Linked DNA regions of Homo sapiens. The protein of the gene in region 1 purifies or fractionates together with the protein of each later gene. This does not show direct contact. Each region holds a gene or a part of one and is shown in the gene's direction. Other genes may lie near its edges.

Evidence for each region.
Region 2: the proteins of SNX20 (region 1) and DIRAS1 purify together in Homo sapiens (affinity purification with mass spectrometry; 2 studies listed by BioGRID and IntAct, with this or other methods). This does not show direct contact.
Region 3: the proteins of SNX20 (region 1) and ENOSF1 purify together in Homo sapiens (affinity purification with mass spectrometry; 2 studies listed by BioGRID and IntAct, with this or other methods). This does not show direct contact.

Annotation. Positions count from the first base shown.
Region 1 is NC_000016.10:50,670,356-50,679,703, reverse strand, and holds the end of SNX20 (sorting nexin-20), read left to right. Parts: intron 1-2,168; 5' UTR 2,169-2,177; coding exon 2,178-2,307; intron 2,308-3,782; coding exon 3,783-3,934; intron 3,935-5,629; coding exon 5,630-6,298; 3' UTR 6,299-8,075; downstream 8,076-9,348.
Region 2 is NC_000019.10:2,713,156-2,719,809, reverse strand, and holds the end of DIRAS1 (GTP-binding protein Di-Ras1), read left to right. Parts: intron 1-332; exon of another isoform or gene 333-1,498; coding exon of another isoform or gene 1,499-1,531; intron 1,532-1,934; coding exon of another isoform or gene 1,935-2,003; coding exon 2,004-2,600; 3' UTR 2,601-5,243; downstream 5,244-6,654. UniProt on the Homo sapiens protein: Displays low GTPase activity and exists predominantly in the GTP-bound form.
Region 3 is NC_000018.10:708,720-718,913, reverse strand, and holds the start of ENOSF1 (mitochondrial enolase superfamily member 1), read left to right. Parts: upstream 1-6,283; 5' UTR 6,284-6,326; coding exon 6,327-6,410; coding exon of another isoform or gene 6,411-6,554; intron 6,555-10,194. UniProt on the Homo sapiens protein: Plays a role in the catabolism of L-fucose, a sugar that is part of the carbohydrates that are attached to cellular glycoproteins.

The DNA of each region.
Region 1 (9,348 bases):
GCCACATTTATCAGGTAGGGAAACTGAAGCCTAGAGATATTAAAGCACTTGCTTAAGGACACACGGTTGGTCAGGATGGAAGGCGATGTCTCCTGACTCCCTGACAGGCACAAGAGACAAGCGAGAGGTGCCCGTGACGGCATGCTCAAGAACGTGCAGCCCTGGGCCAGCCAGGCCCCTGCTCCGTGCCTCTGTTTGCCCATCTGTAAAAGGTGAGGTTGGATCGAGGGTCCCTGAGGGCCGCCCACTGGATGGCTGTGCAGAGCCAAACGGAGAAGGCCCCAGGGTTCCTTTCACCCGACACAGCAAGCACTTCCCCCTGAAGTGCAGGCTCCAGGCCCCAGCTGACCTCCCCTCTCCCAGGCCAGCGGCTCTCACCCCTGGAGCAAGGGACAGGCGCTGGCTGTGCTCAGGGACATGCATGACTCCCGCCCCCATCTGTGCTCAGGGGGTGCCAGGGAGGCACTGGCTCTATCTTTCTCTAGGCCGTAGTCAGCCCAGGGGTTCAGACCAAGAGCCCAGAATCCAACAGATCAGAGTTCAAGTCCCAGCTCTACCTCTATGTTCCACTGGCAGCTTCCTCAGGTCATTTGCACCTTCCTTGTCTTGAATTTCCATGCCTAACCAGTCAGTATACCAGCTACTCCCTCCAGCCGATCTAATGTTTTAATTGTCCCTTTCTCTAAGTTGTCTCAAACATTTGTAATTCTATTCCAATCCACCTTAATTTAGTCATTTATTTCACAAATATTTCTGGAAACATCTAGCACTTAACAGACACTAAAAGCGGGGGTACTACACAGTCCCTGGGATGGACAGGGCCCTGAGCTGAGGCTTCAGAGTCTGCCTGACTGAATCCTCACCCCAGCCTTGTGAACGTGGGTTCTGTTATTATCCCCAATTTATAGGAAACAGAAGCACAGAGAAGTTGAGTCACTTGCCAGCTACCAGGTCATCCCTTCCACTTATCCGGGTCACAGACAGAGTTATTATGTAAACCAGATCCCAGCTGCCTGTTCTCCCTCCCTGAGTAAGGTGGAGAGAATTCTGAAGTCAGCCCAGCCTGGGTCTGTATCCTGCCCACCACTCACCAGCTCCTCATCTTTGGCAACTCTAAGTCTCAGTTCCCTTATCATAAAAGGGAGATGTAAACAGTCCTGAGTGCAGACAGTGTTCAGGTTAGTGCAAGAGTGTGTGCTGGGTGTGAAGTGCACAGCCAGCACGTCACAAGCACTGGAGACAAATTCAGCTTTGCTTGTTGCGCACACTCACCAGCTGCGTGACTTTAGACCTCAGTTTTCTCATCTGTTATGTGGTGGTAATGATAGACTTTTGTGAGCATTAAACTAGATTAGGGGCTATGGAGAACCTAGATGGGTATGAAGTGGGTATAATAAGCTATCAGTTAATTTTGCTGATAGATAGATTATTGATTGATTGATCGATAGAAGATTCATACCAGTATCTACCTGCTCTGAACACTGACCTTTCTTTTTTTCTTTTTGAGATGGTCTTGTTCTGTCACCCAGACTGGAGTGCAGTGGCATCATCATAGCTCACTGCAGCCTCAGTCTCTTGGGCTTAAGGGATCCTCCTGTCTCAGCCTCCCAAGTAGCTGGGACCACAGGCGTGCATCCTGGATAATTTTTTTTTATTTTTTCTAGAGACGGGGTCTCACTACATTGGCCAGGCTGGTCTCAAATTCCTGGGCTCAAGTGATCCTTCTAACCCAGCCTCCCAAAGCGCTGGGATTACAGGCATGAGTGGCCATGTTCAACTTGAACACTGAGACTTCATTCGCATGTGTAACATAAAACTGAGTATCTAGACAAGCCAGCATCTTTCTTTCAAGTAATCACTAAAGCCAATACTTTTACTTGAAATCATCTCATTTAAAACTCTGAGCAATACGTAAGGATCACCTCAATAACATATGGATCATCGCAATAGGTGAAGGGTCTTCTCTGCCTTGGAGTAACCTGCCCAGCAAAGGGGCAGACCCAGATTTGGGATCTGGCAGCTGGGAGAGTGGGGAAGGTTGAGCCGTGGGGCCCTTGTCATTCCCTCTGCCTGCCAGGAGGGGGCATGACACAGCTCCTAGGCACCCCAGGAGCCACCGGGAACCCCAACTGGAGTGGGTCCTCACTGTTCTCTTTTTCCTCTGGCAGCCTTGGAGCATGGCAAGTCCAGAGCACCCTGGGAGCCCTGGCTGCATGGGACCCATAACCCAGTGCACGGCAAGGACCCAGCAGGAAGCACCAGCCACTGGCCCCGACCTCCCGCACCCAGGACCTGACGGGCACTTAGGTGGGCTTGAGGCTTGAGACTCGGTCTGGGGGAGAGGTCTGAAGACATTCAAAGTACAAATGTGGGTCACTTTGGGGGATGCAGCAAGAGGCCCGGGCAGCTCTTGTAACTTGGGTTATCCCAAAACAGACACTGAGACACAGATCTAGTGCAAGCTGTTTATCCGGGAGACGGTCCTAGGAGTCATGGCAGGGGAGTGGGAATGGAAGGAAAGGGCAAGAGGCCAGGGCAGGACATCAGTGAACAGATAGGCACGGTAGGTGGCTGAAGCTCAACCCCAGCGGGGGTCTTCTGGGAGACCCTGGAACATATCTCTGGGTTGTCCTATCCTAGGGGTGAGGAAGCCGGGCTGTTATCTACCAGTCCTGCCCTGCATAGGAGAAGGGACGCTCCTGGGCCTGCTGCTATGGCCCTAGAAAGCCCTCAGGGAAGCCAGTGGCATGTTCTGGAAAAGTGGGTGCCAAGAGGGCACGGTCCAGCCTGGGGCATGGACAGCATCTGCTGTAGTGCCATCTCCTGGAACAGATCTTTTCTTACAGTCCTTCGAGATGCCCTATTCAATACCTGCTCTGTTCCTGGCCCTATGCAGGGCACTGGAGAAACAGAAACAGGAAGAAATCAAACACTGCACTAGTCCTGAGGTTTGGTAGAGAAACAGATCAGTGAGAAACAGTTACACGTGCCACGAGAAATAAATAAATAAAATGAAAAACCTGTAGGAACAAGGTGGGAAGCTCTTACTCTAATGCCAAGGGGCATTTGCAGTGATGTGGGGGCTGGGTCTTGAAGGGTAGACTGGAAAAGGGCTGGGACCCATGCCCTTTGCAATAAAATGCACAATTATTTGTGCTTCTTAAGAACCTCAGAGTGGCGCAGGGCTCAAGTGGGGTTTAAGAAACACTGTGTTCGTTTTCCAGGCGTGGAAATAGAGGGTTGGATGCAAGGCAGAGCAGTGCACGTCCGAGAAGAGCCCGGCATGTGGGCAGTTAGATGAGAAGGTTAGGAAGGGCCAGCCCGCTGAGGCTGGAACATAACATCCTCCTCACTGCCTCCCCTGCCCACTGATGTGTGCTCAAGGAGTCGTGGCAACAGTCACGAAGTCAGGGCTGCAGGGAGCACAGAAACACACAAGCCACCGTCTCTGCTTGTCCAGAGCAGGGATTTCACCATGGCCAATCTACAGACCAGAAGTGGACGATGCAAAGTGCCCGCACCGCATTCCAAAGCTGTGAAACCACTTGGGGGTGATGGGCTATTTGGGATTGTCGGTGGTAGGGTGGATTCTGCCAGGCTGGGCACAGAGGTCTGTCTGATGCCCCAATTGGGCCTATAAATGGCGGGGTGGGAGAGAGGGATATTCAATACTCTTCAGGAGTTCTGATATGCCATCTCAGATAGACCCAGCCATCTCCCCAAGCCCATGCCTCGGAAGTGCACTGACAGGGTGCAGATCCTTAAGGGTGTTGTCCTTCCAGACACACACAGTGGCCTGAGCTCCAACTCCAGCATGACCACGCGGGAGCTTCAGCAGTACTGGCAGAACCAGAAATGCCGCTGGAAGCACGTCAAACTGCTCTTTGAGATCGCTTCAGCTCGCATCGAGGAGAGAAAAGTCTCTAAGTTTGTGGTAAGCAGAGATTGGGAAATGGTGGAGCCTCTTTCACTCTGCTTCCTTCCTGGCCCTGAATAAGTCTTGTAGAGCCTCAGGTTTCCCAACTATGAAATGGGTCAACACACTAACTCACAGCTTTCTTCTGGAGAAAATGGCCAAAGAGCAAGATTTCAGGCTCAGCACCTGCTAGGGTCTGTGAGGATTCGAACCATATAAGTCATATTTCTTGGTCCCAAGAAGGAAATAGCCCAGTTTAATCCCATCTTATCAGGTGTCAGTCACCTGTGTCCTTTCTTCACCAATTTTGCCATATCACTGTATCTGTTCTAATTATTATTACTTATTTTTTTCTTTAAATTGGATCACTTTTTAAAAACATGAAGCACATTTATTTCAAAGAGAAATACCTTAAATGGAAAACCAATATCACATGGCACAAAGCAAAAGTAACATACTAGAAAAGTCGATACAAGGAAAGTCAATACAAGGAAAGCTATGTGCTGTTATTAAATTCTAGCTGGTTACTGTGGCTTCGGGAAAGCCCTGTGCCTGGGAGCTGCTCCTCTCCCTGTTAGAATGGAATTTTAGCTTGTGTTAAGGGATGTTAAAGACTGCCTAAGAGCCACACTTCATCCTTCTCCTTCACTTACCTGGGACCGGGATAAATAACATAGCTACCACTGAATGCCAATGGCATGCCGGGCACAGCTCCATGTGGTTTCAGTGCATTAACTCATTTAATCCTCACTGGGTGAGGTAGGCACTATGCCTATCCTTGTTTTATGAATGAGAAAAGTGAGACTCGGAGAGGTTAAATTACTCATCTAAAACCACACAGCTAGACCATGGTAGGGCTATAATTACAACCCATGCAATCTGGCTCTGGAGTCAGATGCATGGGTTATAATTGCCCTTAATATATAATTGCCCGTAATCAGGATTCTCTTGAAAGATGATTGAAAAGGATTGATTTTCTTACCATATAACGGCATCACCAGTGTACCTAAATGATGTTATATTGTACGTAAAACTAATTCCCAAGTGTGAAACATTTGGAAAACACAGCATCTCAGTTCAGAAAACAGAGGCCCAGTTTTAGCAAGTAAAGCCAAGAGGGACCCCAGCAGCCTGCAGGGCAGGACCCTCTGCCCTTTCTCCTCCCAGATGTCCCCACCTTGCTGTGTTGTTGTTCCAGGGTTGACTCAGCTGATGCCAATAGCAATTTAAAACAGAATTGGGCCAGGTGCAGTGGCTCATGCCTGTAATCCCAGCACTTTGGGAGGCCCAGGTAGGAGGATCGCTTGAGCCCAGGAGTTGGAGACCAGCCTGGGCAACACAGCCAGACCCCATCTTTTAAAAAAAATCAAAAAATCTGCCAGGTAGTGGGTGTGCCTGTAGTCCCAGCTACTCAGGAGGCTCAGGTGGGCAGGTCAATTGAGCCCATAAGTTCAAGGTTGCAGTGAGGTATGATCGCATCACTGTACTCCAGCCTGGGTAACAGTGCGAGACCCTGTCTCTAAAAATAAATAAATAAATAAATAAATAAATAAATAAACAAACAAACAAACAAACAAACAAACAATTGCATATAAGGATCGCCCGTTTTCAGGGCATGCTTTACACCGGCCTGGTTAACTTTACTCTGGGTGTGCTCCGTCCGCCGCAGCCCCCGCCGGGAGGTGGCCACAGCTCTCTCTGGTTGCGCCCTAGGTGTACCAAATCATCGTCATCCAGACTGGGAGCTTTGACAACAACAAGGCCGTCCTGGAACGGCGCTATTCCGACTTCGCGAAGCTCCAGAAAGCGCTGCTGAAGACGTTCAGGGAGGAGATCGAAGACGTGGAGTTTCCCAGGAAGCACCTGACTGGGAACTTCGCTGAGGAGATGATCTGTGAGCGTCGGCGCGCCCTGCAGGAGTACCTGGGCCTGCTCTACGCCATCCGCTGCGTGCGCCGCTCCCGGGAGTTCCTGGACTTCCTCACGCGGCCGGAGCTGCGCGAGGCTTTCGGCTGCCTGCGGGCCGGCCAGTACCCGCGCGCCCTGGAGCTGCTGCTGCGCGTGCTGCCGCTGCAGGAGAAGCTCACCGCCCACTGCCCTGCGGCCGCCGTCCCGGCCCTGTGCGCCGTGCTGCTGTGCCACCGCGACCTCGACCGCCCCGCCGAGGCCTTCGCGGCCGGAGAGAGGGCCCTGCAGCGCCTGCAGGCCCGGGAGGGCCATCGCTACTATGCGCCTCTGCTGGACGCCATGGTCCGCCTGGCCTACGCGCTGGGCAAGGACTTCGTGACTCTGCAGGAGAGGCTGGAGGAGAGCCAGCTCCGGAGGCCCACGCCCCGAGGCATCACCCTGAAGGAGCTCACTGTGCGAGAATACCTGCACTGAGCCGGCCTGGGACCCCGCAGGGACGCTGGAGATTTGGGGTCACCATGGCTCACAGTGGGCTGTTTGGGGTTCTTTTTTTTTATTTTTCCTTTTCTTTTTTGTTATTTGAGACAGTCTTGCTCTGTCACCCAGACTGAAGTGCAGTGGCTCAATTATGTCTCACTGCAGCCTCAAACTCCTGGGCACAAGCAATCCTCCCACCTCAGCCTCCCAAGTAGCTGGGATTACAGGTGCACACCACCACACCAGGCTAATTTTTAATTTTTTAGTAGAGACAGGGTCTCTCTGTTGCCCAGGCTGGTCTCTAACTTCTGACCTTAAATGATCTTCCTGCCTCAGCTTCCCAAAACACTGGGGTTACAAGTGTGAGCCACCACCCCTGGCCTGGGGTTCATTTTTAATGGGAAAAGCCACTGGGGGCTCTAACTCGCTGGGTGACTTTGGACAAGCCCCTCCTCTGGTCCTCAATTTCTCCATCTGTATTGGACAGAGGTGCTCCTGGGACCCCTTGGAAGCCTCTGCTTGTGTCCCACGTCCTCTTGATGCCAGGGCCACTTCATCTCCAAAACACAAAACCAACTGCCAAAACCGTCCAGAGCAGTGTCCACCCCACCAGTGTCTTTGTGGGAAGCTGGAGAAGAAGTTTACCTCACACATTCTAGACAAAACTTAGTCCATTTCCTTGAAGACAGTTCTCTCCAGCTGCTCCAAGGCTTTTCTCTCTGTTCCTTCCACCTTGGAATTGCTTTAAAATATTTCCATCCATTATCCTAATACTATCTTAGTATTCTAGCCCTTCCCCCTTACCATGTAGACCTGACAAAGCAAAACAAAAGCTCACCTATTGCCCTCAAGAACAGCCTCTACACACACACACACACACACACACACACACACACACACACACACGGTGGGAGTTGTATGCCATCCTTTTGAAGGGTGGGAGGACCCTGGACCAGAAAGCAATAATGGCATAAGATTCTGTGATACCAGGCATTTTTGGCAAGGGAAGTTGCCAACAATTTTTCTGGCTGGGATGGCATAGCACATTGTCTAGGGGTGGATTTTCATTCATAAGGCAGCTGTTCCCTGAATGGCTTCCCTGGGTTATGTAGAAACAGCCTGGGGAGGAGGTGATACAACATACTTAATGGGGCCTCTGGGCAGAAAACAGACTGAATCCTCAACACTGCCCCTTTTGAGGGTCTGTGATCCTGGAACTTCTCTGATGGACTGGGATGCCCTTAACTGAGGTCTGCTGTCTGGAAAGGACACCACAGGCCCAGAATGAAGGGGCATCTGGACCAATGACCTAGATTCAACACAGGGCTTGGAGCTGGTGGTACAGGCTGGTTTTGGCCCAATGTGTGTTGGAGGCTGGAAGCCCCTGAAGACCTAAACTGCCTGGATGAGCTTATTAGGGTGAATTAATGAGTCTGTAATTTGGGAACCTTAATGTGAGACACCACTTAAGGAGAGGAACTTGGCCCAGCAAGTGATCACTCTAGAAGTGGACAGCTATGCACTAGACTGCACCAGAATCTGTTCAACAGCGACACCTTGTGGTAAAAACTGTAGACGCCCCATCAGGCTGGATGGGAAACTAGAAACAGACTGTCTCATCTTTGGACAGATATCCCTCAAATCTCCCAATCTACTCCAGGGAAAAGACACTTCAAGTGAGAGATATTGGACTTCTTGAAAATCTAGGCCTATGGAAAATTAAAGTGTTAAATGGAAAAATTAAAGAGCTATGAGTCTATTTGTAATGATGAAACAGATGATATTGATTTTGTCAGTTATTTCTTCAAATCTAAAATGCTATCAACAATATGCAACAAATGTTTACTAACAAAGAAAAAATACCCAACATGGACAGTTTAATGGGATATTCCAGCACAAAAGCTGGAAAAGCAAAGAGTTAGACCCCCGATATGAGGGTTAACACCAAATAAGCCTGTTGTACAGGAGGGGACATTAAGGAAATTTGCACAAACTAAACTTGGCACTGGGTGGAGTACAGGGAACTTCCTCTGAGAATTTGAACTGCAAGCGGGCACTCGCCCATGTTTTAGGGCTGAATACACACAGCATGGTCCAAAATCCCTCAAGCAGAGAAATCATGTTAAAGTGGTCTCAGGTGGAGGTGTTCCAGGTGCCTCAAGACCTGGAGATCTTTAGGTCTTCCCTGGGGCTGAAGGATGTCAGCATCAAGCCAGGCCTATAAGAAGTGTAGGATCCTGTTGAGTTCAGAGGTGCTGAAATGTGAAAAAAAAAAGTCATCTCAAAATCACAGATAGATGATATGTGTGGGGTGTTGGGGGGGTGGGGCGGGGGGTGCACACAGAGAGAAAATACTTATATGGGAGTAAAGGAGCCTATAGAATCACATGGGGGGTTCCCCATAAGTACCTCTGAAGAGGGGTTGGCTTCCCACACAGTGCACAGGAAATGGATTTATTCAGGCTTCCCAAAAAGGGACTGGCCACATGGGGCAGCTTCAGGACCATCACTTTGCCTTTTCCCGATGACACTCAATGCTGCCCCTCCTCGTGCTTCTGGCAGCCTTGGCCTGAGCATCCACGGGAGTTTCTTCTGGCCATGGACACTGCATCTTCATCCACTACAAGTTGTCTGATGGACTGGGATGGCCTGCCACAGCCAGCTCCTCCTGGCATCTCCCATATGCTGCAGCAGTTAGAGCCCACTCGTTCCTTGGGTTCCTGGAACAAGTCCTTGAATTCCTTAGGCCCCCACCTCCAGCAAGCTTTCCGCAGGGCCCACTGCAGCCCCACCGGGGTACCCCACCTCCCTGTTTGCCTGGGCCCTCTCCCACGCCACCTGTATTAGTCCTTGTTTCTAGGGGACTTTAGAGTGGTGGCAGCTGGGACTGAACATTCTTCTCCTGACCCCTCAAAAGCTGGGTCCACAGGAGAGGTGAGGGGGTACCTGACCTCCATACCCAGGATGGAGCCTTGTTAGGAACACAGAATTTCAGGCCCCACCCTAGACCTGCTTAATCGGAGTCTGCACTTTAACAAGAGCATCCC
Region 2 (6,654 bases), on another chromosome or scaffold:
TTGTCACCTTACTTGCCCCAACAGTGGCTCGCATTTCACAGAAGAGAAAACGGAGGCTTAGGGACTTGAATTTGCCTGTTTAGGTTCAAACCACTGACCCCCGGGGAACCTCTGGACCCTCCCCATAAACACACCCCCACCCCCAGTGCAGCAGGTAGAAACTGGTTCCTCCTCCTCTCCCACTGTAGACCACCTTGCTGGGGAACACCCCTCCCCCACCCCCCACCGCTGCCCCAGAGCCTGGAAGGAGGAAGGGGAGGGGAGGACATCAATTCTGGAGATAAGCCACCCGCCCTCCCCCCAGCGTTCTTCCCCCACCTCCATCATTTCAGGATCTGCTGTGCTGTGTGACCTCCTCAGGCTGCTGGACCTCTCTGAGCCCAAGAAGGAAGAGAGGGGCTAAGAGGTGCCCCTCCCAGGAAGTGCTATTCTAAGGATCCTTCAGACCTGAACGGGAGGGGCTAGGGCACACCAGGCCATAGTTTGATTTTAGAGTTTAGGGAGTGGCGATTTTCCCGTTCAGCTTCTGGATTTTGTATTTTTGTGTCCCACCTGGGCTGCAAGACCCTTCCTCCCTGGGGCGGCTATTGGGAATCAGTGCCCTGATTTGCAAATTGTGGTTCTCAGATTCCCAGCCTCAGGATCCCATTTATGGCAGGTGAGGAGAGCAGCCCTGTAATACAAGTTCCAGCTGGATGCGGTGTCTCACACCTGGAATCCCAGCACTTTGGGAGCCCGAGGCGAGAGGAGCACCTGAGGTCAGGAGTTCAAGACCAGCCTGGCCAACATGGCGAAACCCCGTCTCTACTGAAAATACAAAAATTAGCCGGGTGTGGTGGTGCATGCCTGTAATCCCAGCTACTCTGGAGGCTGAGGCAGGAGAATTGCTTGAACCGAGGAGGCAGAGGTTGCAGTGAGCCGAGATTGCACCACTGAACTCCAACCTGGGCAACAGAGCAAGACTTGGTTTTAAAAAAAATAAGAAGGCCAGGTGCAGTGGCTCACGCCTGTAACCCCAGCACTTTGGGAGGCCGAGGTGGGTGGATCACCTGAGGTCAGGAGTTCAAGACCTGCCTGACCAACATGGAGAAACCCTGCCTCTACTAAAAATATAAAATTAGCCGGGCTTTGTGGTGCATGCCTGTAATCCTAGCTACTTGGGAGGCTGAGGCAAGAGAATAGCTTGAACCCGGGAGGTGGAGGTTGCGGCGAGCCAAGATTGTGCCATTGCACTCCAGCCTGGGCAGCAAGAGCGAAACTCTGTCTAAAAATAAATAAATAAATAAGAAGAATAAAATAAAATACGAGTTCCCAGGGCCGTTGCCCTGGCCGACCGATTCATCACACCTAGGGCTGCGGCCCTGACATATGCATCTTAAACACCCGACCATGTGCGGCTTCCATGAGGATTGGCCATCTCTGGGTTGGCGGAAGAGCAGGGGACCCATGGTTGTTGGAGACGGGCACCGTTTGAGCCACCAAACAGGCTCAGGGTGGCATGATGGCTCGGCAAGGTCTCAGAGCCAGGCAGGTGTGGAGCGAGAGGTGGAAGCCAGGCCTGCTAGCTTCCAGGGGCCCCTGCCACACTGGGAAGAGAGGGGGAAGCTGGCACAGCCTGGAAGGGACACCCACACCCGGGGAAGGAGTTTCGTGGGCATCCCGGCGTCTCCCACGCCTCTCCTAGCTCAGCGTCCCCCGGGGAAGCTCAGGCCCCAGATTTTGTTAGGGAGAAGTAAGCAAAGGGTGTTGGCTGTGCGCCCGCCTGTGGGACAGAACTGCAAAGTCAGCCACAAGCAAATGGGCCTTTTCAGGAGGCAGGAGGCACGGCAGCCACCTCCTCTGAGAAGCCGCCATGTCCTCCTCCCTCCCCGGGGCGTGGGGCTGTCCCCTCAAGCCTGGGTGGCCTTTGACGTGTGACCCTCCTCTCTGCACAGGCTCGGTCTGGGGTTCTTGCAGCTGGCACCAGCCCTCCCGGCCCCGGCCGCCCACCCGCCGCGGGGAAGATGCCGGAACAGAGTAACGATTACCGCGTGGTGGTGTTCGGGGCGGGCGGCGTGGGCAAGAGCTCGCTGGTGCTGCGCTTCGTGAAGGGCACGTTCCGCGACACCTACATCCCCACCATCGAGGACACCTACCGGCAGGTGATCAGCTGCGACAAGAGCGTGTGCACGCTGCAGATCACAGACACCACCGGCAGCCACCAGTTCCCGGCCATGCAGCGCCTGTCCATCTCCAAGGGCCACGCCTTCATCCTGGTGTTCTCCGTCACCAGCAAGCAGTCGCTGGAGGAGCTGGGGCCCATCTACAAGCTCATCGTGCAGATCAAGGGCAGCGTGGAGGACATCCCCGTGATGCTCGTGGGCAACAAGTGCGATGAGACGCAGCGGGAGGTGGACACGCGCGAGGCGCAGGCGGTGGCCCAGGAGTGGAAGTGCGCTTTCATGGAGACCTCGGCCAAGATGAACTACAACGTCAAGGAGCTCTTCCAGGAGCTGCTGACGCTGGAGACGCGCCGGAACATGAGCCTCAACATCGACGGCAAGCGCTCCGGGAAGCAGAAGAGGACAGACCGCGTCAAGGGCAAATGCACCCTCATGTGAGCCCGGAACGCCCGCCTGCCCGCCGCCCACCCCCACTGACCCCCGCTGCCTCCCCCAACACCGACACCCTCCTCGGCCTCCTCCTCTTCTCTCATCCTTCCTCCGACACCTCGGCTGGGGAAACCGAGGCCACCGCCCCCCCCTCCGCTGCCCCTGCCCACCCCGAGGCAGGGCTGGGGCTTTTCTTCCTCCCCTGCTCTCTCTCCACCCTCCTGTTCTGTCTGTACCCTCCAAAACCAAGAGCCGGAGGTGGCCCCCTTGTCCTGCAGATGGGAAAACAGGATGGGGAGCTGGCAAGAGGAGCTGCTTGTTCCCACCAGGACCAGAGGAGGCTGCGTTTCCCCGTTTCCATCTCTTTCCCTGGGGTGTCCCCAGCCAGACCTGCGCGTCCTGTCCCTCACATTTGATCACTGTGACCTTCTGGGGGAGGGGGGAGTTGAAAATGCACATCGGCCTCAGATATTTTTTTCTTTTTTCTCCTATTTGGTGTTAACATACACCCAAGCCCACCCGGCCCGTCGTGACCTCTGATCTGTGCCCACTCCTCCGGTTCCAGACGCACCTCTCTCCTCTGTCTTCACAGTGGGGTGTGGGGCCCGTGGGATGGGCCTCAGGCCACCAGGCAATAACCACAGGGCCTGCAGCAGTGCCCCTGCCAGCCCCGAATCCCACCCCCGGGACCAGCCACATCCACAGCACAACTGCCCCGCTGGAGAGGCACCATGGGCGTGGAGGGGCTTCCCGGACACCGCCCACCCGGGACCCGCCTCTTCCACCAAGACAGAGACGTTAGCAACGCATGGCGGGTGGGGACCTGGGGTGCTCAGGAGGGGGTACCCGGGGCCCCGGCCAGAGATACATCAATTACACCCCCGTGGGGGGACAGCCGATGGGAGCCAGCACCAGCAGGATCCGAGGGCGCCCCGGACAGAGGTCTGCCCCACCCACTTCCTCCCCACCACCTGTGCCCCAGAGAGCAGGGCCTGCCCGGGAAGGTGGCGTCCTGGAGTCGAGTGTACCTGCAGCCATGAGGTTCTGGGTGTTTTTTGAGAGAGTCTGAGTGACACCACACTCGTGTGACCCCACAGGGTTGTGTCCAACATACACGGAAGTGGCTATGGAATGGTGTATTTGTGCAACCTGGGGTGCGCGGATGGGTGACTTGTATCTAAGTGCATCTGCGTGTATACCTGTGTGTGTCTGTCTGGGATGATATGTTTTTGTGGCAGTCTGTGTGTGTAATAGTGGTGTAGGGTATACAGAGAGGTGGGTAGTTGTAGATACCTGTGTGTGGTTGTCAGCAAGACTGGATATGTGTGAGGTGTCTGTGTGAATCTTTGTGCCTGTATGAGCATGACTATATTTTGGGGAGTGGGTGATATGGTTTATCTGAGAGCATTTATCTGTAAATATGTTTGTCCTGATTGAGGGACACGATCTGTGTTCCACTCTATAGCAACATGACTCTAGCAATGTGACTTTCGGTTCCAAATCTGTATCAGTCAGCTACTGCTGTGTAACAAATGACCACAAATGTAGCAACCAGAAACAACACATGCTTATTATCTCATAGATTCTGTGGGTCAAGAGCCTGGGTGCAGGTTGGCTGGGTCCTCTACTTGGGATCTCAGGAGGCTGCAATCAAAGCATTCGCCAGGCAGAGGTCTCATCTGAAGGCCTGATCGGGGAAGGATTTGCTTCTTAGAAGCTCATGTGGTTGTTGCAGCATTCAGTTCCTTGCTGTTGCAAGACTGAAGGCCTCAGTTCCTCGCTGGCTGTTGGCTGGAAGCTGCCCTTTGTTCTGTACCATGTGGGTCTCTCCACAGCGGGGCTCGGAGCATGGCAGCTAAGTTAGTGAGGGAAGGTGAGATGGAGGTTTTGGTCTTATTGGGTGTGAGGAAGCAACGTGTGTGTGTGCGCACGCCCTTTTGTGCAGTGAGAGAGAGAGAGAGATTGCACACATGTGTCTCTGTAGTCATGTGGCCAGGTGGGACTATGTAGGTAACAGATTGCTCGTGTCTGATTTGGTACAAGCATGTTTGTTTTCCTCTGTGTTCGTGTGAGTGTTTACTCAACAAATGTTTATTGGACACACTCAGAGAGAGGGAGTGTGCACACGTGCGTGTGTGTTGCTATCCAGCACGTGGACCGGGCTCCCAGAAGAGCTGGCATTGTGTCTGAGCAGAGCTGGGTCCCCCCAAAACTTGGGCTGGCCCAGGGCCCACCAGCAGCTGATGTTGCCTCCTCTCCTGTCCTGGCAGTAGCTTCTGGGTTCTGAAGGTGCCGGAGAGAGTGAGGCTGGGCAGGGGTCTGCGGCCCTTTCTCAGGGACACACCCTGATAGCACAATCTCCTTGGGGCCCTGCCCACCTCCAGGCCTCTCCCACCTCAGGCCCTGCCCGACCCTGGGGAGAGAGGGCATCTGCAATAGGAGGGGACCCGAGCCTGTCCTGGCTGCTGGCCCATCCTGCCTGGGCATCCCTGGTGCTGGGGACTGTGCCAGGCCATGCTTGCTGTGACTCCGCCCCTGCCCCCTCTCCCCCCGCATGTGGGTGCCCCCACTCCCCCATCGTGGGGTCTGTGTAGCCTTCGCTCTAGACATAGTCTTCCTGCAATAAAAAAGTGGATCCTGCATTCCCCACCAGCATGGCGCCCTGTCTCTGTGGTGGGCGTGGGGTGTCAGCTCACCGCCTGTAAAGGATCAAGAAGGGTGGGGAGGTGCAGGATGGGGTGAAGGGTGAAGGAGGTGATGGGTGTAGGAAGTGAGGGATGGGATGAAGGGTGGAGGAGGTGATGGGTGTAGGAAGTGAGGGATGGGATGAAGGGTGGAGGAGGTGATGGGTGTAGGAAGTGAGGGATGGGATGAAGGGTGGAGGAGGTGGTGGGTGGAGGAAGTGAGGGATGGGGTGAAGGGTTGAGAAGGTGGTGGGTGTAGGAAGTGAGGGATGGGATGAAGGGTGGAGGAGGTGACGGGTGTAGGAAGTGAGGGATGGGGTGAAGGGTGGAGGAGGTGGTGGGTGTAGGAAGTGAGGGATGGGATGAAGGGTGGAGGAAGTGGTGGGTGTAGGAAGTGAGGGATGGTGTGAAGGGTGGAGGAGGTGATGGGTGTAGGAAGTGAGGGATGGGGTGAAGGGTGGAGGAGGTGGTGGGTGGAGGAAGTGAGGGATGGGATGAAGGGTGGAGGAGGTGATGGGTGTAGGAAGTGAGGGATGGGATGAAGGGTGGAGGAGGTGGTGGGTGTAGGAAGTGAGGAATGGGATGAAGGGTGGAGGAGGTGGTGGGTGTAGGAAGTGAGGAATGGGATGAAGGGTGGAGGAGGTGACGGGTGTAGGAAGTGAGGGATGGGATGAAGGGTGGAGGAGGTGGTGGGTGTAGGAAGTGAGGGATGGGATGAAGGGTGGAGGAGGTGACGGGTGTAGGAAGTGAGGGATGGGATGAAGGGTGGAGGAGGTGGTGGGTGTAGGAAGTGAGGGATGGGATGAAGGGTGGAGGAGGTGACGGGTGTAGGAAGTGAGGGATGGGATGAAGGGTGGAGGAGGTGGTGGGTGTAGGAAGTGAGGAATGGGATGAAGGGTGGAGGAGGTGACGGGTGTAGGAAGTGAGGGATGGGATGAAGGGTGGAGGAGGTGGTGCGTGGAGGAAGTGAGGGATGGGATGAAGGGTGGAGGAGGTGATGGGTGTAGACAGTGATGGATGGGATGAAGGGTGGAGGAGGTGATGGGTGTAGGAAGTGAGAGATGGCATTAAGGGTGGAGGAGGTGGTGGGTGTAGGAAGTGAGGGATGGGATGAAGGGTGGAGGAGGTGATCGGTGTAGACAGTGACGGATGGGATGAAGGGTGGAGGAGGTGATGGGTGTAGGAAGTGAGGGATGGGATGAAGGGTGGAGGAGGTGGTGGGTGTAGGAAGTGAGGAATGGGATGAAGGGTGGAGGAGGTGGTGGGTGTAGGAAGTGAGGTATGGGGTGAAGGGTGGAGGAGGTGATGGGTGTAGGAAGTGAGGTATGGGGTGAAGGGTGGAGGAGGCGATGGGTGTAGGAAGTGAGGGATGGGATGAA
Region 3 (10,194 bases), on another chromosome or scaffold:
CTCCTTGAGACTCTGGGCTGGCTATGTCCTTCAGTCAACCGGACGTTCTCAATATGGCCTCCCTAATACACCTCCTTTTGGAGACTGGTAGCAGCTTCCATTCCATATGTTTTCTGCCTCAGGGGTGATGACAGTTTTGCTGCTACTAATACTGCATTAATCCTTGTGGTTCCTAACCTGCCCACCTCTTTGTAAATAAATATCCTTGATTTGCTTTTTTTTTTTTTTTTTTTTTTTTTACAGACAGGATCTCTCTCACGCTGTCGCCCAGGTTGGGGTGCAGTGGCACGATCATAGCTCACTGCAGTCTCGAACTCACGGGCTCAAGGGATCCTCCCACCTCGGCTTCCCAAGTAGCTAGGAGTACAGCACAGGCCACCATGCCCAGCAAATTTTGTATTTTTGCTAGAGATGAGGTCTTGCTATGCTGCCTATGCAGGTCTCAAACTCCTAGGCTCAGGCAATCTTTCCACCTTGGCTTCTCAAAGTGCTGGAATTACCAAGTGTGAGCCACTGCACGGCCTCTTGATTTATCTTAATTTGAGCATGCCATCTGCTTCCAGTTGAGACCCTGACTGATACTCATTATACCAACAGCTGTATCAGTAGAAAATACGAAACTCAAATTATCACATAAAAGTGACAGTTTATACAAAACATTTTCAGTGCTGTGTATACAAAACTTCAGCAATATATGCAACATTGTATTAAATGTAAAGTTACAAGACTATTAACTGTGGAGAGAGCATACCAAATCTTGGAAATATTGAAAACTCCAATTTTTTTTTTCCCCAGAGTTTCGTTCTGTCGCCCAGGCTGGAGTGCAGCAGTGTGATCTTGGCTCACTACAACCTCTGCCTCCCAGGTTATAGCAATTCTTGTGCCTCAATCTCCCAAGTAGCTTGAATTACAGGCGTGTGCCACCATGCCCGGCTAATTTTTGTATTTTTAATTGAGAGGGTTTTGCCATGTTGGCCAGGCTGCTCTCGAACTACTAACCTCAGGTGATTCGTCCACCTCAGCCTCCCAAAATGCTGGGATTACAGGCGTGAGCCACCACAACCGCCCCAAAACGAATCTTTTTTAAAAGAGTTTTTCAATGTCTATTTTTCCAATATTAGAAAACCATTTGTTGCAAAACTGTTGGACAGAATGTTCAATTAGCTGTTTTACTGCAATTCAATAATAATTTATGAGTTGAATTTTAAAATGTATAGGAAGGAGGCTGGGTGCAGTGGCTCATGCCTGTAATCCCAACACTTTGGGAGCCTGGTCTGGAGGATCGCTTGAGCCCAGGAGTTCAAGATAAGCCTGGGCAGCAAGACGAAACCCCATCTGTACAAAAATTAGCTGGGCATGGTGGTGCGTACCTGTGGTCCCAACTACTAAGGAGGCTGAGGTGGGATAACTGTTTGAGTCCAGGAGGTAGAAACTGCAGTGAACTGTGATTGCACCACTGCACTCCAATCTGGGTGACAGAATGAGACCCTGTCTCAAAAAAAAAAAAAAAAATTAGAAATAAGACTTAGTAAAACAATAAAAGCTAAATAGATAATATGTGAAATTTATCCAGTAGCAGGAATGGTCCCTGGGACCTTTAAGAAGCAGATGGCGGTATTCAATTTTAAGTTGCTTGCAGAGTCCTTGCTACCCCAAACCTTCCTGCAAATCAGCTACACATAACAGTGAGTCAGTGACCTTTAGGAAAGAAAAGGGATTGGGGTCACGGCCAGAGGTACAATGACAAGGTACAAAAAAGGATAGGGATGGATTTCATAACCTAGTTTAAACGCAGTGGGGAAATAAATTCAGGAAATAAATCAGGTAAGTAGGAGAAAAGTTCACCAAGTACTTCCAGAGATACTTGGAGAGACACTGGATTTCACAGGGACATGGCGTAGGGGTTCAATCCAGCTTCACTTCTATCTTAAAGGTCAAGTTAACGAGTAAGTTGGAGGACTTTGAAAATCCAAGTAAAAAATTGTCACTAGCCTGTGACAATAGGGATGAGAGAAATAAAAACTTCGCAGTTGGCCAAAAAGGTTGACAGTGATTCTAATAACTGAATTAAAGTGGTGTGGCCCTTAAAGTTTATCAAATTCCATTTATTCACTCATAATTGCACTATTTTCATGGAAAGTCTTAGTCTCCTAAAACATTGAGAGGATATACCATGGAACTAGATGGCAAACTTGGTTTGGTTGGTTTTTGTAATCTTTACCATTGCTAGAAAGTTAGAAAAGGGTGGCTTCACTTCAGCAGAAATTTTGAAAAATTCGTGGAACCAGAAGAAACCCAATCTAAAAGAAATACAAGAGAACATTTTCGCAGAGTTTTAAGTGCAATTTCAAAGAAAATTCAAACTTAGAATCAAATTCAAAGAGGAGGCAGCACCCCAAAGCAACATTTTTTGTTTTATTGAGGTATAATTTACATACAACAAAGCTCACCATTTTAAGTGTACCACTAGATGAGTTGTTGACAAATGTAGACAGCCATGAAACCACCATGAAACCAGAATCATAGAACATTTCCATCATTTCAGAAAATTCCATTATGCCCTTTTACAGTCAATCTCTTCCATTCACCCCTGACCTCTGTCAACCACTGAGTGTTTTCTGTCACTATAATTGTACATTTCTAGGGCTTTATATAAATGGAATCATATGTAGTCACTGTGTCTGATGTCTTTCGTTTAGCATAATGCTTTTGAGATCTTTTTATGGCTCAGTAATATTCCATTGTGTGGATGTGTACTACATCTTGGTTTTGTCCTTTACCAATTGATGGATGTTTAGGTTGTTACTAGTTTTAGGCTATCACAAATAAAGCTGCTATGAACATTCAAATACAAGTTTTTATTTTAAACATAGGTTTTAAATTCTCTTGGATAATTACCTATGAGTAGGATTACTGAGTTGTATGATACATGAATGCTTAACTTTCTAAGAAACTGATAACCTATTTTCCAAAGAAGCTGTACCCTTTCATACCCCTCCAGCAATGTATGAGAGTTCCAGCTGCTTCACATCCTTGCCAATACTTGGTATTGCCAGTCACTTTAATTGCAGCCATCCTGGTGCGTGTTAGTAGTACATCATTGTGGTTTTAGTGTGCATTTCCCTAATGACTAATAATGTTGAGTCTTTTCATAAGCTTATTTCAAATTCATATGTCTGCTTAGGTGGAATGTCTATTAAAAAGTCTTTTGCCCATTTTTTATATCAAGTTGCCATCTTACTGAGTTGTAATTTTTTCAGTATTCTGCATACAAGTCCTTTTAACAGATATGTTTTGCAAATATTTTTCTTCCAATCTGCAGCTTGCATTTTCATTTCTTTAATGGTTTTCATAAAAGAGAAAACATTTTTAATGTTGATAATTTAATTGGCAATGTTTTTCTTTTATGATTCATGCTTTTAGTGTCCTAAGAAAGTTTGCTTTATCCAAGTACAAAAAGATTTTCTCCTGTGTTTTCTTTAGAAGTTTTGTAATTCTAGCTCTTAAAATTTAGATCTATATTCCACTTCGAGATGATTTTTGTGTATGATATAAGGTAATGATCCAGGATTGTTCTGTTTGTTCTTATGGATATTCAATTGTTCGAGCACCAGTTGTTGGAAAGATTAGCTTACTCGTTGAATTTTCTTGGCCCCTGTTTTTTTTTGTTGTTTTTATTTTGTAGACGGAGTCTCGCTTTGTCGCCCAGCCTGGAGGGCAGTGGCGCGATCTCAGCTCACCGCAACCTCCGCCTCCCGGGTTCAAATGATTCTCCTGCCTCAGCCTCCCGAGTAGCTGGGACTACAGGCGCGTGCTACCACGCCTGGCTAATTTTTTGTATTTTTACTATTTCAAGACCTCTTCTGTTCCATTGATCTACTTGTCTGTCTTTATGTCAATTTCACATTGACTCGATTAGTGTATAGCAAGTCTTAAAACCAAGTAGTTTAAGTTCTTCAGCCTTGTTCTTTTTTAGGATTATTTTGGCTATTCAAATTTCCATATAAATTTTAGAATCAACTTGTCAATTTCTTCAAAAAAATCCTGCTAGTGATTTAGATTAGATTGCATTGAATTTGTAGTTCGATTTGGGAAGAACTGCTATTTTAACAATATTGAGTCTTCCAATCCAAGAATATGAATTTCTCTACATTTCTACATTTCTTTAGATCTTTTTTTCTCAGCAATGTTTTATAGTTCAGTGTGCAAATCTTGCATATTTTTGTTAAACTTGTCCTGTTTTATATCTTCAATGCAATTGTTTTAAGAGATACTGTTTTCTAATTTGTTTCCAATTTTTTATTACTAGCACATCAACTATAGATTTTAAATTGACCTTGTATCCTACAAACTTGCTAAGCTCAATATTAGTTCCAGTAGCTTTTTTCGTTAAGTCCAATGAAGACAGTTTTCAACAAAGATGAATAATCATGTCATCCAAGAATAAACAGGTTTACTTCCTTTTCAATCTGCCTTTTATTTCTTTTCTTATTATATTACCCTAACTAGAACCTGCAGTACTATGTTGAATAGAAGTGGTGGAAGCAGACATCCTTTCCTTGTTCCAAATCTTAAGGAGAAAGCATCAATCATTCACCATAAAGTCAGTTTGTGGCTGTTTCTATCTTCTGAAATAGATTATAGAGAATTGTTGTAATTTCTTCCTTAAATGTTTGGTGTAAAATTCACCAGTGAAACCATGGACCTGGTGCTTTTTGTTTTTGGAAGGCTATTATTTATTCAAGTTATTTAATAGATATAGGCCTATTCAGATTGTCCATTTCTTCTCGTGTGAGTTTTGGCAGATTGTGTCTTTCAAGGAATTGGTTTATTTCATCCAGGTTATCAAATTTGTGGACATAGAATTCATAGTATTCCTTTATTATCATTTTAATGTCCGTCGGATCTGTAGTAATGTTCCTTATTTCACTTTTGATATTAGTTATTTGCGTTCTCTTTTCTTGCCTGGTTAGAGGCTTATTGATTTTATCAATGTTTTCAAAGAACCAGCTTTTGTTTTCATTGATTTTTCTTTGTTGCTTTCCTGTTTTCAATTTCACAGGTTTCTGCTTTAATTTTTATTATTTCTTCTCTTCTGCTTACTTTGGATTTTCTTTTTATTTCTTTTTATTTATTTATTTTTGAGACACAGTCTCACTCTGTCGCCCAGGCTGGAGTGCAGTGGTGCGATCTCGGCTCACTGCAACCTCCGCCTCCTGGGTTGAAGCGATTCTCCTGCCTCAGCCTCCCGAGTAGCTGGGACTGCAGGCGCCCGCCACCACGCCCGGCTAATTTTTTGTATTTTTAGTAGAGACGGGGTTTCACCGTGTTAGCCAGGATGGTCTCGATCTCCTGACTCGCCATCTGCCCGCCTTGGCCTCCCAAACTGCTGGGATTACAGGCGTGAGCCGCCCAGCATCTTTTTTTTTTTTTTTTTTTTTTTGAGTCGGAGTCTTGCTCTGTCGCCCGGGCTGCAGTGCAGTGGCGCGATCTCAGTTCACTGCAAGCTCCACCTCCCGGGTTCAGGCAGTTCTGCCTCAGCCTCCCGAGTAGCCGGGACTACGGGCGCGCACCACCACGCCCTGCTAATTTTTGTTTTTAGTAGAGGCGGGATTTCGCCGTATTGGCCAGGCTGATTTCAAACGCCTGACCTCAGGTGATCCGCCCGCCTCGGCCTCCCGAAGTGCTGGGATTACAGGCTGAGGCACGGTACGGGGACCTCATCTGCATCAGTACGGGTGTAATCAATGATGACCTGCCTCTTAATTTATCAGGTGGCAAACTGAGGCTGTGGGCACTGAAAGAGACCTAGCATTTTCTAGGGCACCGCTCTCCTGGGTACGCTGGCGACAACCAGCGGCCTCGGCTTGGGAGCTGAGCCACTGGCCGGAATCTGCCGCTGAGCGAATGCACTCGCTCAGACCCGACTTCTCCCTCTAGGGCGCGGCTCCCGGGCAGGTCCCTTCACGAGTCTTCCATCCGAGCAGAGCAGGGTCCCGCGGAGGCGCCGACCGGGCGCGAGGCCTCCTGCCTGCCCAGGTTCCCCGGCGACCCTGAGCGAACCCTCTCGGGGTCAGCTCCGTCTAGGCTGAGAAGGGAACGGCGGAAGGCGGAGTGCGCCCCCGGGAGCCCGGAGCTGGGACTGCAGCTCCCATGGGGCCAAGTTCACGGGGTGCGGCCGCGCGGCCAATGAGCGCCCTCTATGCCCTGACGGTGCCCCGCCTCGCGGCGCTGCCGCGCTCCCGCCCTCCCGCCCTCCCGCCGCGCGCTCGGGATCCCGACCAGTCCTGACCGCACGGGGGCCGCGGCCACGGGGCGCAGGGGCCATGGTGCGCGGCAGGATCTCCCGGCTCTCGGTCCGGGACGTGCGCTTCCCCACGTCGCTTGGGGGCCACGGCGCGGACGCCATGGTAAGCGCGGACGCCATGGTAAGCGCGGACGCCATGGTAAGCGCGGACGCCATGGTAAGCGCGGACGCCATGGTAAGCGCGGACGCCATGGTAAGCGCGGACGCCATGGTAAGCGCGGACGCCATGGTAAGCGCGGACGCCATGGTACGCGCGGCTTGCGGCCCGGGTCCCTCCCGCCCCGCCGACTGCAGCTCTGCGGGCCCCGGGCAGCTTCCCGACTTCGAACCCATTGCTTCTGTAAAGTGGGAGGCGCGCCTGGGGGAGACACTCGCTTTTCATGCCTTGGAGCAATTGTATAAGTATCCAGAAACTTTCCACTCTCCTGGGTTTTTTCTTTGCTGGAGTTTAGAATATCCTGGTTTTACTTTTACGACTCACATTTTGCTGGAAATGGTAGAATGCATAATAGGCAATAGCAGCAAAATGATTTTGTTGGGTTCCCGCCAGTGGAAACCCTAGAGCACAGCGCTCGCTGGCTTCCTCTGTACCCTGAACGCGACGGGGTTGGCGCTGAGGGAGAACGGGAAGCCCGGGGCTGGGAGTTTTGAGTGGTGATCCCGCTTCCACAACTTGCTGTGTGACTTGGAGAAGTTCCAGACCTCTCTGGGTCTCTTGGACCCGTCTGTGTAATGAAGGTGTCACAGTCGGGTTGAGAAACCAAGCGCGTGCTAACTGCGTCACATGAGAGGGCGCTCTCGTGAAATTACCCGCAAACACGCTTAGAAAGGACTGATGCAAATGTCAGTTCGTCTTAAGAGATGTAATAAAGTAAGGGCAGGAACTCTGACTCCTACCTAAATATTGAAGGTCTTTTTTGCTTACTGAGGGTGTTAGAATGTCAGGCCTTCCCTCCCCTGCCCCCGTCTAGAGCGGTGTTTCCCAAATACAGTGGGTTCTGTGCAGGGTTTTCAGGGAGCCTGTTCCCCACTGGGTCCTCACTGCCCCTCGTAGTCCACTGATGAGATTGGCCGCGCTAGAAAAGCAGAGTTGTATGGGTATGTAGTGAATGTGTGAAAGTATGCTGGGAAGTGAGGAACGGCAATGTTAGGAAAATGGTTACCAGTAGGGAGGGAAGGAAATGGGGTCACGGAGGGGACCACGAGGTCTCTAATTCCCATTGTAATGTTTTACTTCCTAAATTGGGTGGATGGCAAGCTGGTGTCCATTACATTATCTATACTCTTTTTGTACCTGAAATGTTTTATAAAAATAGATCTCTCGTTAAAGTTATTAAATGCAAAACAATGTCCTTTTTGAGATTAAGTTCATCCTGCATTTTTAAATTTTTATTTTATTCTATTTTATGTTTTAAATTTATTTATTTATTTATTTTGAGGCAGGGTCTCTTATCTGTTGCCCAAGCTGGAGTGCAGTGGTACTATCATGGCTCACAGCAGCCTTGACCTCCCTGACTCAACCAATCCTCCCACCTCAGCCTCCCAAGTAGCTGGGACTACAGGTGTGCACCATGATGCCCAGCTACTTTCTGTATTTTTTGTAGAGACAGGGCCCAGGCTGTCATCCTCTTTAAAATCTTCATGTTTCCTTTCTTACATGATGTTGGTAAATAACTTAAACACCCAGCAGGCAATCCTTTATGGAACTCAAAATAAATGTTGGAAATTTTACTGGCTTATAGAATCCAAACACTCGATCTCATGCAACTGCCTTTGCCTCTGTGAAGCTTTAGCAGCTGTGGCTAAGTCACACAATCTTTCTAAGCCTAGGTTTCTCATCTGTAAAATGGGTATAATAATATTCACTTTATACATGTAAATGAGATACCTGTAAAGAGCCTGGCTCAGAGAAGGCCGTCAGTAAAGTTGGCTATAGGCCAGGCATGAGGGCTCACACCTCTAATCCTAAGTGGAGGCCTAGGCAGGGGGATCACTTGAGCCCAGGAATTCAATTACATGAGCTATGATCATGCCACTGCATTCCAGCCTGGGCACTGGATGACACAGTGAGACCCTGTTTCTAAAGAAAAAAGGAGGGGTGGCTGTAATTACTATTCACTCTGAGGAAACTGAAGCAGAAGGAATCCCTAATCTAGACTTGACTTTGAATTTGTGAAATGTTAAGACAGCCTGGTTTGGCTGAGCGTGGTGGTTCAAGCCTATAATCCCAGCACTTTGGAAGGCCAAGGCAGGTGGATCGCTTGAGCCCAGGAGTTCGAGACCAGCCTGAGCAACATAGTGAGACCTCGTCTCAACAAAAAAATACAAAAATTAGCTGGGCGTAGTTGCATGCACCTGTGGTCCCAGCCACTCAGGAGGCTGAGGTGGGAGGATCTCTTGAGTCCAGGAGGTCGAGGCTGCAGTGAGCTGTAATTGTGTCACTGCACTCCAGCCTGGGTGAGAGAGAGAGACCCTGTCTCAAAAGACAGCCTGGTTTACTGTAGAATAATTCAAGAAATGGAATTTGCCTCTGGGCCTGAGTGATGTCTAACACAGGGTAAGGAGACATTATCTAACACCTGTATTGCAAGCTCATAAATACTTAAGCATTTTATCTTGGGGAGATAGGGTGTATGTTGTGTGCCAGCTCTCAAGTGCCTTCTTATTAGAATGAGCTGTTTTGCAGTTCACCATGGAGATGGCTTCACATGCCCTCGAGGCATGCTGGACCATCAGCACTTAGCAAAGTGAGCCTCCCTGATCAGAAGTAGGATATTTTCAAGAAAGAGCAATAAAGCTGTCCTCAAAATCTGCTAAAGACTCCTGCTTTTTTTTTTTAGACAGAGTCTCGCTTGTTGCCCAGCCTGGAGTGCAGTGGTGCAATCTCATCTCACTGCAACCTCTGCCTCCCATATGCAAATGATTCTCGTACCTCAGCCTCTGGAGTAGCTGTGATTACAGGTGTGCACCACCACACCTGGCTAATTTTTGTATTTTTGGTAGAGACGGGGTTTCACCATGTTGTCCAGGCTGGTCTCGAACTCCTGAGCTCAGGTGATCCACCTGCCTCGGCCTCCCAAAGTGCCGGATTACAGGCATGAGCCACTACTCCGGGCTTACCTCCTTCTTAATCTGAAATCTACTTCTGTTCCTTTCTTCTCTGTGAATTGCCCTTGTTATTTCTCCTTCAGCTGTCCTTACCCTCAGATACGTTTTCCGCTGTCGGCTGCCTCTTCTTCGTGTGCTCTCTCCCCTCGTGGCCTCCTGCCTTTCTGACAGCTCCTTCTTCCTCCACTGGCCCCTTCTTCCCTCTCTGAGGCTCAGGCCTCAGTGTCTTTCCGGTCTCCCTACACACTCCCATGAAGACCCTCTCCGCATTCTGACTTCGGTGCCACCCTTTATGCCGGAGACTCCCAGATCTCATTTCCGGATCTGCCTCCTTAACTTATAGGTCTGGATACTTCCTGTTTGGTTTTTCACCTTCATGCTAAACGCAGTTTGTCTAAATCGGAAGTCAACTTCCATTCTCTGCCGCCCCTCCCTCCTGACCCATGTTGGATCATTCCGCTAATCACAGGGACCCAAAAGCTTCGAGTCACTTTTGGCTCATCTCGTCCTGTTGACCCTCATCTGAGGCTTCAGTGCAAGGTTTCCTTTTTCCATTGCTTCCTCTTCTTGGAACCCAGAAACTGCCGATGGGTCTTTAATTCTTGGAGTCTCCTTCTCAGCCTCATCGCTCAACTCCTTCAGGAACCCAATGGCTCAGCCAACCCAGGTGGGCACCAACACTTGAATACACTCCAGTCTCTCCCTCTTCTGACCCCTTTACTTTCTGCACTGCTGCTGCTGCTACCTTGCCTGAGATATTCCTCCCTCCCAGACTCTTC